3 linked regions of the Homo sapiens genome follow. The protein of the gene in region 2 purifies or fractionates together with the protein of the main gene of each other region. This does not show direct contact. Each region holds a gene or a part of one and is shown on either strand. Other genes may lie near its edges.

Region 1 (3,657 bases), on a different chromosome or scaffold from region 2:
AGCTTGGGTGGAATCTTGAAAACTCACCATTCTTCCTTCTGGCAGAACCATGTTTGTTATGTTTCCTAAGAAAAAATGTAGCATATATGAAACGTGGGTTGCTCAAAGGGAAGTGTTGCCACAAAAAGGAAGGAAATAGCAAATATTTTAAAGTTATAAAAACCAGCAATTTGTATTTACTTTTGATCCTGGCTTCTTATGGTATATCCAGTTGTTACAAAGTACAGCTTTTTGTTACCTGGCAGCAGACCTAATGAAATAAATGTGTTATGTTGTCTAAGTAATAATGTCAACGTTAATTAGGGTAAGTTTGGGTCTTGGCAGTCTTATTAATGTACTTATTACATTTCAGTAGTTGCGGTGGGGAGAATTAATGAACAAACTATTGTATATTAAATGCTTAATATAGCGAAAATAAAGAATACACACTTTTTAAGGAATAGATTAACTAAAACTGTAAATAAAATTAACATAAAAGGAGGAAAGCAAGGAAATAATGAGAAGAGGATTCCGGGGAAATTACATGAATGGGTTGGGGGAGTAGTATGGTTGAGTGTGGTTTCTTAGTCTAGATCCTGTCTTGTTTTGGGTGGTGAATTCACAGGTGCTTGCAGCATTATAATAATTAAACAAAAGCAGGTAATAAGTGTGTGAATGGATGAGAGTGTGATGTTACTATGATTAATCCCATTCTGTGAACTTAAAATTCAGTGAAAATGAGAAAAACGAAGAAAGCACTTTTGCATTTGCTGTGATGCAGAGATTTGATTTTATAAGCTCAATGTTACAGAAAACTAGCAGGTGCTGGTAAGATGACATCAGTTTCTAATATTTAAAGCGTTTTGCAGGTTTGAGAAGAGAAATGAGGACCTTTAAATGAGCATGAGATTTGCTGCCTGATGATTTCTGAAACTTTTGCGCAATGCAGCAAATCAACTGGAATTGTCAGTCAGCCATCTTAAATGACATGGAATCAGAGGAGATGTGTGGTCTCATAAAATCTCATTAATTCACTATTTAATTTTTGCTAAATATTGAATCTATTGATGGAAGAACTGTTGGCAGCTGAGATCTAGTACACTGCTAGATTTTTAGCCTCAAAGTTTAGAGAACTCTTTTCATCAGAGTTGACTCTTCTGGGGAGGGTGAGGAGTGTTGCCTCCCTCTCTGGGGGTTACTTCCTTCCCTTATTCCCCAGTGCTGCCTCTTTGCCTATTTATTTTTTATTTTATTTTTTTGAGACAGTCTCGCTCTATCATCCAGGCTGGAGTGCAGTGGTGCAATCTTGGCTCACTGCGACCTCCGCCTCCCGGGTTCAAGCAATTCTCCTATCTCACCCTCTTGTCTCAGCTGGGACAGGACTACAGGCGTGCAGCACCACACCTGGCTAGTTTTATATTTTTAATAGAGATGGGTTTTCACCACGTAGGCCAGGCTGGTCTCAAACTCCTGACCTCAAGTGATCCGCCCGCCTCGGTCTCCCAAAGTGCTGGGATTACAGGCATGAGCCACCGCAGCCGGCCCATTATTAGTATTTTAATAAAGCTTATTAAATGCTTGCTATATGACAGAAATTGTAGATGCAAAAATAAATAAGTGAATCTTTCCCCTCGAAGTTTAATGGGCATTTGGTTAACCCATTTCTGGTGGCACTAACGTATTCATAAACACTTTCGGTAAAGTTCTCAAGTTATAAAGAGAAATGGGTTGAGTATCCCTTACCCAAAATGCTTGGGACCAGAAGTGTTTCAGATTTCGGATATTTTTAGATTTTTAGAATGCCTGCATATACATAATGAGATACCTTGAGGATGCGACCCATGTCTAAACACAAAATTCATTTATGCTTCATATATACTTTCTACACATAGCCTGAATATGCAATATATGTCATACTTTTAATAATTTTATGCATGCAAAAAGATTTCACTCTGTTTTTGACTGTGACCCATCACATGAAGTCAAGTGTGGAATTTTTTTTTTTTTTTTTTTTTTTTGAGACAGAGTCTCACTCTGTCACACAGGCTGGAATGCAGTGGTGCAATCTTGGCTCACCGCAAGCTCTGCCTTCTGGGTTCACGCCATTCTCCCGCCTCAGCCTCCTGAGTAGCTGGGACTACAGGTGCCCGCCACCATGCCTGGCTAATTTTGTTTCTGTATTTTTAGTAGAGACGGGGTTTCACCGTGTTAGCCAGGATGGTCTCGATCTCCTGACCTCGTGATCCACCCGCCTCAGCCTCCCAAAGTGCTGGTATTAGAGGTGCGAGACACCGCACCCGGCCTGGTGTGGAATGTTCTACTTTGGGGTCATGTTGTTGCTCGGAACGTTTTAGGTTTTGAAGGATTTCAGATTTTCATACTGGAGATAGTCTGTATTGAGAAAAGCAAATATCTAGAGTTTAGTTTGAGTTGCAAACAAATTTTGATTTATCTTTGTGATTTCCCAGAAAGTCGCATTGTTTATTTCTCAGAATCTGTTAGTATTCCCTTTCCATTTTAAGAATAAAGAAAGAACAGAAGAACCTGTAGTTCAGTAGGCTTTGGTTTGCTGACCAGTTGGATGAAGAGGGCTCAAAAGATTAAACTAAGTTAGATGAAAGGTGCATGGTCATTTCTGAAGAAATGTGTTTGGGAGCCACAGTGCTAAGCTGGACACTCAGCATGGTTTTTCTGTGCTGTTGCTCTGTTTGAGTTTTCTTAGATTAAAATTTAAGGGTATGTATCTAGATGTGAACAATGAGTTTTGAGTTCTGGGTAAGCTGGAAGAAAAGTGTACAAAAGCCTCAAAAGCTGTTTGGTGCAGTGTTGTTCCTTCTGGCCAGTGATTATTGGCCAGAAATTTCTAATTGAGAGGGCTTCGCAAATGGAGTATAAACTGCAGTTTGGCCTCATTTCCTATTTAGCTGTGGGTTGGATATTGATCTTAGTCTGGGGATAGAGCAGTGAACAGAACAACCTGGATCTAGGTTTTCTTGGAGTTCAGAGTTATTAAACTAGGCTCTGAAGTGGACATCAGGGGATTCCCTCCAAGACTTTGAGGACATGGTTATATTTCATCCATATTTCTTAAGGAATGGAGTTCATTATTTTTTCTTGATTTGGCCTCAGTGCTTCAGGCCTGTCACGAGACATCCCCAAGTTCCTGAAAAAGGTCAGTTTTGCACTGAAGACATCTATCAGGAGGAGAGTCTGTCTGCATCCCGGCATCCCTTCATTCTTTTCTTTTCTTTTTTTTTTGGCGGAGTCTTTATCTGTCACCCAGGCTGGAGTGCAGTGGTGTGATCTTGGCTCACTGCAACATCCATCTCCCGGGTTCAGGCGATTATCATGCCTCACCCTCCGGAGTAGCTGGGATTACAGGCACCCACCACCACGCCCAGCTAATTTTTGTATTTTTAATAGAGACAGGTTTTCACCGTGTTGGCCAGGCTGATCTCTTAACTCCTGACCTCAAGTGATCCGCCCACCTATGCCTCCCAAAGTGCTGGGATTACAGGCGTGAGCCACCGTGCCTGACCATCCCTTCATTCTTATGTGATTCATTTGAGCAGTCGGCCATCAATACCCCTGGACAGTCTGCTTTCCCTGCTTCTCTACGGCCTTGCGGGGACCTTTCATTTAAAAATCAAAATGGAGAGGTTTTAGTTAATTTGAGGG
Region 2 (3,031 bases):
GCTCTTTCCTTTTCTCTCATCTGTGTGGGTGCTTGAATTTGGTGAAATGCGTTTAGCAAACCAACTGTGTGTTTGTAATACTGTGAATTCTTGCGTTTTGCATTAAGTGTCTCCCCCATTTTTGTAATTTGTAGAGAAATATGTGCTGGTGTTGGGTGTCTTCCAAGCATTTTATGGAAATGGAGGCTCCATTCCTTAGGAGTAAAAGCTGGCGCCAGCACTTGGCTCTTGTTCTGTCTAGGTGAACTCTCATAATTCTTGTTTTACCCTGTTGGATTTGCACTTTACATATATTTTTGCTCTATTACTTAAACATATAGCAGCTTTTACAAATAATGCCTAACATGCCTGCGCTGAGAAAGTGGCAGATCTACACATATCATACGCAGAGTTGTTCTCTACCTGATGGGGCAAAACCAACCACATGTTCTTGGTTCCTCCAAACGAATGACATTACTTGACATTACTGCCTGAGTGTATCTTCACAATAGCAAAATGGTTTGAGATTAAGCATTTGGAATCTTATGTCATTTTGTATGGGGTCAATCCACCATAACGTGTTTCTCATTTGGTTTTAATTATTTCCAGAAATCATAAAGTCACAAAACTGGAAGGGATCTTCAGAGATCTAGAGTGTTTCAAGCAGAAAACACATTAGTTATACAGGGCAGTTAGATATGGCTGAGATGTAAACAAGAGAATCTAAAAGAATGTTCAAGGAATAGCTGTTTTTGAACATTACTTAGTAATGGCATGAGTGGGAGGAGAGACTTTCAGCACCTTGAGACAGGGCGCTCTCTGGAACCAGCTTTGTTCCTCTTATCGAAAGCATATATGACAGTTTTTTTGGCTCCGGCCCTGTGGTGGGGGAGGTAATTATTGCCTTCATCCACATAAATTCCTTCCTATACATTCCCCTCAGACCACCCCAGAGGCAAAACTGAAATGGAAATCCAGTGGCACTTAAAATTCACCCTGCCCCGTTTGGCTGCGATTCCCAGGCTTACAGCACTGCCCTTATGGAATATCACATTTTCATTTTCTGAGATTCATTTTATAAAAGTAAAGGCCAGGTGCCATGGCTCACACCTATAATCTGAACACTTTGGGAGGACAAGGTGGGAGGATTGCTGAGCCCAGGAGTTCAAGACCAGCCTGGGCCACACAGCAAGATCCTGTCACTACCAAAAATTCAAAACTTAGTTGGGTGTGGTGGCACACACCTGTATTCCCAGCTACTCAGGAAGCTGAGGCGGGAGGATCACTCGAGCCCAGGAATTCAAGGATGCAGTGAGCTATGATTGCACTACTGCAGTCCAGCCTGGGCAGCAGAGCAAGGCCCTGAATAAATAAACAAAAGTATAATTTATTTTTGCCTGATATTAATCACTTCTTAAGGCCCAAATTTTTGTTTTTAAGCAAAAGGATAGCTCTAAGTGTGGGTTGCAGTTACTGGACATAAATATTCACTAAATGAGATTCCTTTGGTTATGGCTGTTCATAGAATTTTAATTCTATGTCAGTGTTCTTGTTCACTAAGATATTTCGAAGTGAGAGAAAGCATTTTACCAATACATTCTTATTTTTTCTCCTTTAAAATAATATTGAATTTTTCCTGGTACGAAGACAGATATTTATTAACTTGATTGGAAAACACAGAAATTAAGATCATGTTGAACACTGAGTTATCTAGATGATCCCTGAGATTTGAATGTTCATGTCAACCGTGTTGAGCGCTCACCAGCCACCAGGCTTTAGGCACTGGCAGTGCAAGGTGTCTGAGGCCCATTCTCAGGCTGGGCAGAGGTCACACAGTGAGTAAATGGGTCTTTTCAGTGCAATGTGGTTATGATAGAGGCATGCCAGGGTGCCACTAACCCAGCAGGTGTGGCAGGAGGGGCTTCACAGAGGAAAGGGACTTTGAGCTCAGTGTTAAAGGATGAGGAGTGAGTCATAAGGGGGAAAAATGGAAATGACTTTCCAGGCTTCAGAAACAGCATAAACAAACAAAGGCCTGAGAGCTGGAGTCAGTGTGGTGTGTCCAGGGATCACAAGTGGGCTGGAGCTGCCGGAGAACAGCCAAGTGGCTCAGCTGCCATCCCAGAATTGAGCTCGTCACTATCAGATGCTGCTGCTCCCTGGCCTCAGAGGAAAGCAGCACACAGCTCACCACGAGGGGTTTCCCCAGAGGCTCCTCCTGCAGCCAATGCTACTATTAGTTTATATTATAATAGTATCAGTTTCTTTTTCTTTGGAAATCCCTAGAACTGTTAACTGAAGGTGACTCAGGGTAACTAATTCTGGATCTTTGGGTGCACAGCCTCTCACTGGAGTCTGAGAGGAGGAGGTGGAGACTATCAGTGCACGGCCCGCAACCAGGAAGGACTCCCAGACTAACGCCAAAGGTGTGTTGGGCTCAGCTGCTCCACTGTGGAAAAGGAAAGCCCTGGCCCTGTGGCAGGAGAGGATTGTTCTAGTCAAGTGTGGCGTTGCACGGACAGGCGGTGCCGAGTGTTTGGGTGCAGACACAGGCAGCTGCTGCCCTCCACTTCCTGCTCTTGCAAGTCACAGATGATTCCAGTACAATGTGGGAGGTCCTCCTTACAGGGGCACTTGCAACAGGAAGGCAGAGAGTTTCGTCAATTCAGGTACAGGTCTGTCTGGGAGACCTGGCCCTGTGGAGGCAGGAACACCGTGCAGGGGCATGGCAGCGCCTGTCTTTGCTATCACATCATTTGCCTTTTCCTTGTAGGACCCAAAGATCTATGTCCAAAACTTAGTCCAGAAACATCTGCATTCCTGTTTAAACTTCAGCTCAGTTTCTTAACCAAGAACCACGTCAACCCTCCAGGGTTGTGGTTTGTATTTTTGCCTTTAAGCATTATCTCCTTTCCACCAAGAAGCCTACTTAGGTTTAACACATGAAAGCAGTGTCTAAAAATTAGATCGGTCCTAAATTGGAATGGGATGTCTTCCTTGCATGTCCCATACCAGGGAATTTTTTTAACACACAGTGTAGAGCCTTTGCCAG
Region 3 (3,657 bases), on a different chromosome or scaffold from region 2:
TTATTATTAATATCAAGAACCATGGGAGGAAGAAGAGGATTTGCAGAAAGGGGAGCTCAGCTTTGTAGCTACTGACTTAGACAAACAGTAATGAAGGAGCTCTAAAGCCAGTTGAAAATGCAAGACTGGCCTGGAGGCAGGGCTAGGACTGGAGTCAGGGGACTGCCTGACTTGTCCCTGGCCCCCCGCTCTGCCTCAGGGTAAAGACTGGATTGTTTTCAGCATAAACACACTGATCATAACAGGTTAGGTTACCCAGACTAAGGGTAGAACTGGATAATTATGTACATCTAGGGTACTATTTTTACACTTCAATTTTAACATATAATAATTATACATATTTATGGGGTACAGAGTTGTATTTCTACACATGTATAAAATGTAATGGTCAATTCAGGGTAATTAGCATATCTGTCTCCTAAACATTAATCATTTCTTTGTGTTGGGAACATTTAAAATTCTCTCCTAGCTGTTTGAAAATATGCAATAAATTATTGTTAACTATAGTCATCCTACAATGCTATAGAGCACTAGAATTTATTCTTCCTATCTAATGTAATTTTGTATCCATTCACCATCCTCTCTCCCTATCTCCCCTCCACTTCCCAGCCTCTAGTAACCACAATTCTAATCTCCACTTATGTGAACACAACTATTTTAGGTCCGCATACGAAGGAGAATGCGCGGTATTTGTCTTTCTGTGTCTGGCTTATTGCACTTAACATAATGTCCTCCAGGCTCATTAGGGTACTATTTTGCAATTTTCTTTTCTGTAACTGAAACACACACACACATATACAATGGAAATTAAAGCTGCTTTTTTTTTTAAGTCTCTTGAAACAATTTTTACCTGTATTATATGCACTAGACTTACGACTATTTAATTATATTTGCATTAACAAAGAAGTGCTGGACTGGGCTTAGTGGCTCATGCCTGTAACCCCAGCACTTTGGAAGACTGAGGCGGGTGAATCCTTCGAGCTCAGGAGTTCGAGACCAGCCTGGGCAACATGGTGAAACCCGTCTTTACCAGAAATACAAAAATAAATTACCCAGGTGTGGTGGCATGCACTTGTGGTCCCAGCTACTCTGGAGGCTGGGATAGGAAGATCACTTGAGCCTGGCAGGCAGAAGTTGCAATGAGCCAAGATTGCACCAGCACCATTGCATTCCAAACTGGGTAATAGAGTAAGACCCCATCTAAAAAAAAAAAAAAAAAAAAAAAAAGCTGCTTGGGACCTACTGAGTTAATTTCATGATTATTAGTGAAATCAATCTGAAAAATACAAATATTCTAGGGTATTGAACCAACTGGAAGTCTTGAAGTGTTTTAAAGAGACTATAACCGATGTTATGGAGAATTAAGATAAAGACAGAAACAACTTGTGAATTTGGCAACTAGGAGGTCCTTTGTGACTTGAGAGTATAATTTCCATGCAGTGATTGTGGTTGGAGGCCAGATCACAGAGGCCTAAAGAGTCAGCAGTGTCATAGCCAACAGATACAGTACTGAGTTCTGCTTGCCTTTAAGTCATTACATCCCCAAACAAACCTTAGGAGGGAGAAGCTGTTATTACCCTCAGCTTTCCATTATAGGTAAGGAAAGTTATTTTCAGATGGGCTAAGTAACTTGCCCAAGGCCACATAGTGATGGAGCGCATCCGTCTGACAGCACAGCCCATGCTCCTGTCTGCAAGTCACCATCAGTGGCTCTTTGAAAGCAAAGTGAGGAAGAAACATGTCAGTTGAGAGGGTGGCAGAGTGGAAAAGAAGGTTAGTGTGTTATGTGTGGTCATGTTACTGGGGCCTTGGAGATCACTTCGTTCTGCTTTTCATTTTGTAAATGAGGAAACAGGCCTCGAGGCGTAAGGATTCTTAGGCAGGGTCACACAGCTAGTTATGCAAAACTGAAACCAGATTCCAGGTCTGACGTCGGTATGGATCACCTTCAAGCACTGCGTAGAATTCTTTCGTTTTTACTTTTTACTAAAATTATTTTTAATATAGTACATTATTAATGGTATCTTAAGCCTTGGCCCTTCAGATATTGTTCAGTAAGAGTGACTTAGGGGCTTTTTTTTGTTTTTTGTTTTGGTAACAGGTTTATTGAGATTCAATTCACATGCCATAGGCAATTTACCCATGTAAAGTGTACATTTTAGTTTTAGTATCTTCAGAGAATTGTACAGTCATCACCAAACTCAATTTTAGAACATTTTTATCATCCCCAAAAGAAACCTTCAACCACTCCTCCCCTGTGTTCTCCCAACTCCCTAGCCAGCCCCGGGCAATCGCTTATCTACCTTCTGTCTCAACAGATTTATCCATTCTGGACATTTCCTATAAATGGAATCATAGAATGTGTAGTCTTTCATATCTGGCTTCTTTCACTTAGCATAATATTTTCATGTATCAATCAGTACTTCATTTCTTTTTTCTTTTTTCTTTTTCTTTTTGGTAGAGATAGGGTCATGATATGTTGCTCAGGCTGGTCTTTAACTCCTGTGCTCAGGTGATCTCCAGCTTCGACCTCCTAAAGTGCTGAGGTTATAGTTGTGAGCCACCATACCCAGCCAGTACTTCATTTTTTTTGGTTGCTGGCATTAGCCTTTTCTCCAAGGAACCTGGTTCTATTAAAGATTTTTTATTTGTCAGTCTATATGCTATTTATTAGGCATGGTGGCTAATGCCTGTAATCCCAGCACTTTGGGAGGCCGAGGTGGGCAGATCACGAGGTCAGGAGATCGAGACCATCCTGGGCAACATGGCAAAACCCCGTCTCTACTAAAAATACAAAAATTAGCTGGATGTGGTGGTGCGTGCCTATAATCCCAGCTACTCGGGAGGCTGAGGCAGGAGAATCGCCTGAACCCAGGAGGCAGAGGTTGCAGTGAGCCGAGATCGTGCCACTGCACTCCAGCCTGGTGACAGAGTGAGACTCCATCTCAAAAAAAAAAAAAAAAAAAAAAAAAGTTACTGTTTTCTATTAGTAATTTATTCATTTGTTTTGATCATTATGGGTTCAACATCTCATTTTGTTTGAGGGGTTGTAAGTCATACTATTATTTATTTTGATGTTGAGATTATTTCAACTTTGGCCCATGAGAGCTGCTTCAAGTTGGCTTCCATGGCATTTTGACATGTTCACGATTCTTTGAGCACTTTACTACTTTGTGATGCGGGATTATTCTAGGCTCATCTTCTGTCTCTCTTGCTATAAGCCTGTTCTCCAAGGAACCCACGCTCTTTTAAATATTTTTATCCATTAATCTGTTTACTCATCTGTTAATCTATGAAAAACCATGAGTTTCTCCTGATACCTTCAATTCCAGCCTAATACCACAGGGCTCATTCTTCCCCCTTTCATGTTTGTAACTTACTTCCCAGAAGTTAAGAACCTGGCTCTCATTACCCTCAATATGTTTACTCCTTTTCTCAATCCTAGAGGTCACATAAGATAGTCTCAGAATTGCTAGCCCATACCACTACAGAAAACAAACCTGCTAACTGGAATTGAATATTTTTGTACAATGCCTATTAAGTGAAATGGGTATACATGGAGTGCAGATTTTAAGTATACAGTGCAAAGAGGGAGTATTTCTTTTCTTTTTTTTTTTTTCTTTTAAGACAGGGTCTCGTTCTGTCTCCCAGGCTGGA

The links.
Region 1: the proteins of WDFY2 (region 2) and RBM17 purify together in Homo sapiens (affinity purification with mass spectrometry; 3 studies listed by BioGRID and IntAct, with this or other methods). This does not show direct contact.
Region 3: the proteins of WDFY2 (region 2) and MESD purify together in Homo sapiens (affinity purification with mass spectrometry; 3 studies listed by BioGRID and IntAct, with this or other methods). This does not show direct contact.

What each region holds. Positions count from the first base shown.
Region 1 is NC_000010.11:6,091,996-6,095,652, forward strand, and holds part of RBM17 (splicing factor 45), read left to right. Parts: intron 1-3,657. UniProt on the Homo sapiens protein: Splice factor that binds to the single-stranded 3'AG at the exon/intron border and promotes its utilization in the second catalytic step. Involved in the regulation of alternative splicing and the utilization of cryptic splice sites.
Region 2 is NC_000013.11:51,762,450-51,765,480, forward strand, and holds part of WDFY2 (WD repeat and FYVE domain-containing protein 2), read left to right. Parts: 3' UTR 1-3,031. UniProt on the Homo sapiens protein: Acts in an adapter protein-like fashion to mediate the interaction between the kinase PRKCZ and its substrate VAMP2 and increases the PRKCZ-dependent phosphorylation of VAMP2.
Region 3 is NC_000015.10:80,983,210-80,986,866, reverse strand, and holds part of MESD (LRP chaperone MESD precursor), read left to right. Parts: intron 1-3,657. UniProt on the Homo sapiens protein: Chaperone specifically assisting the folding of beta-propeller/EGF modules within the family of low-density lipoprotein receptors (LDLRs).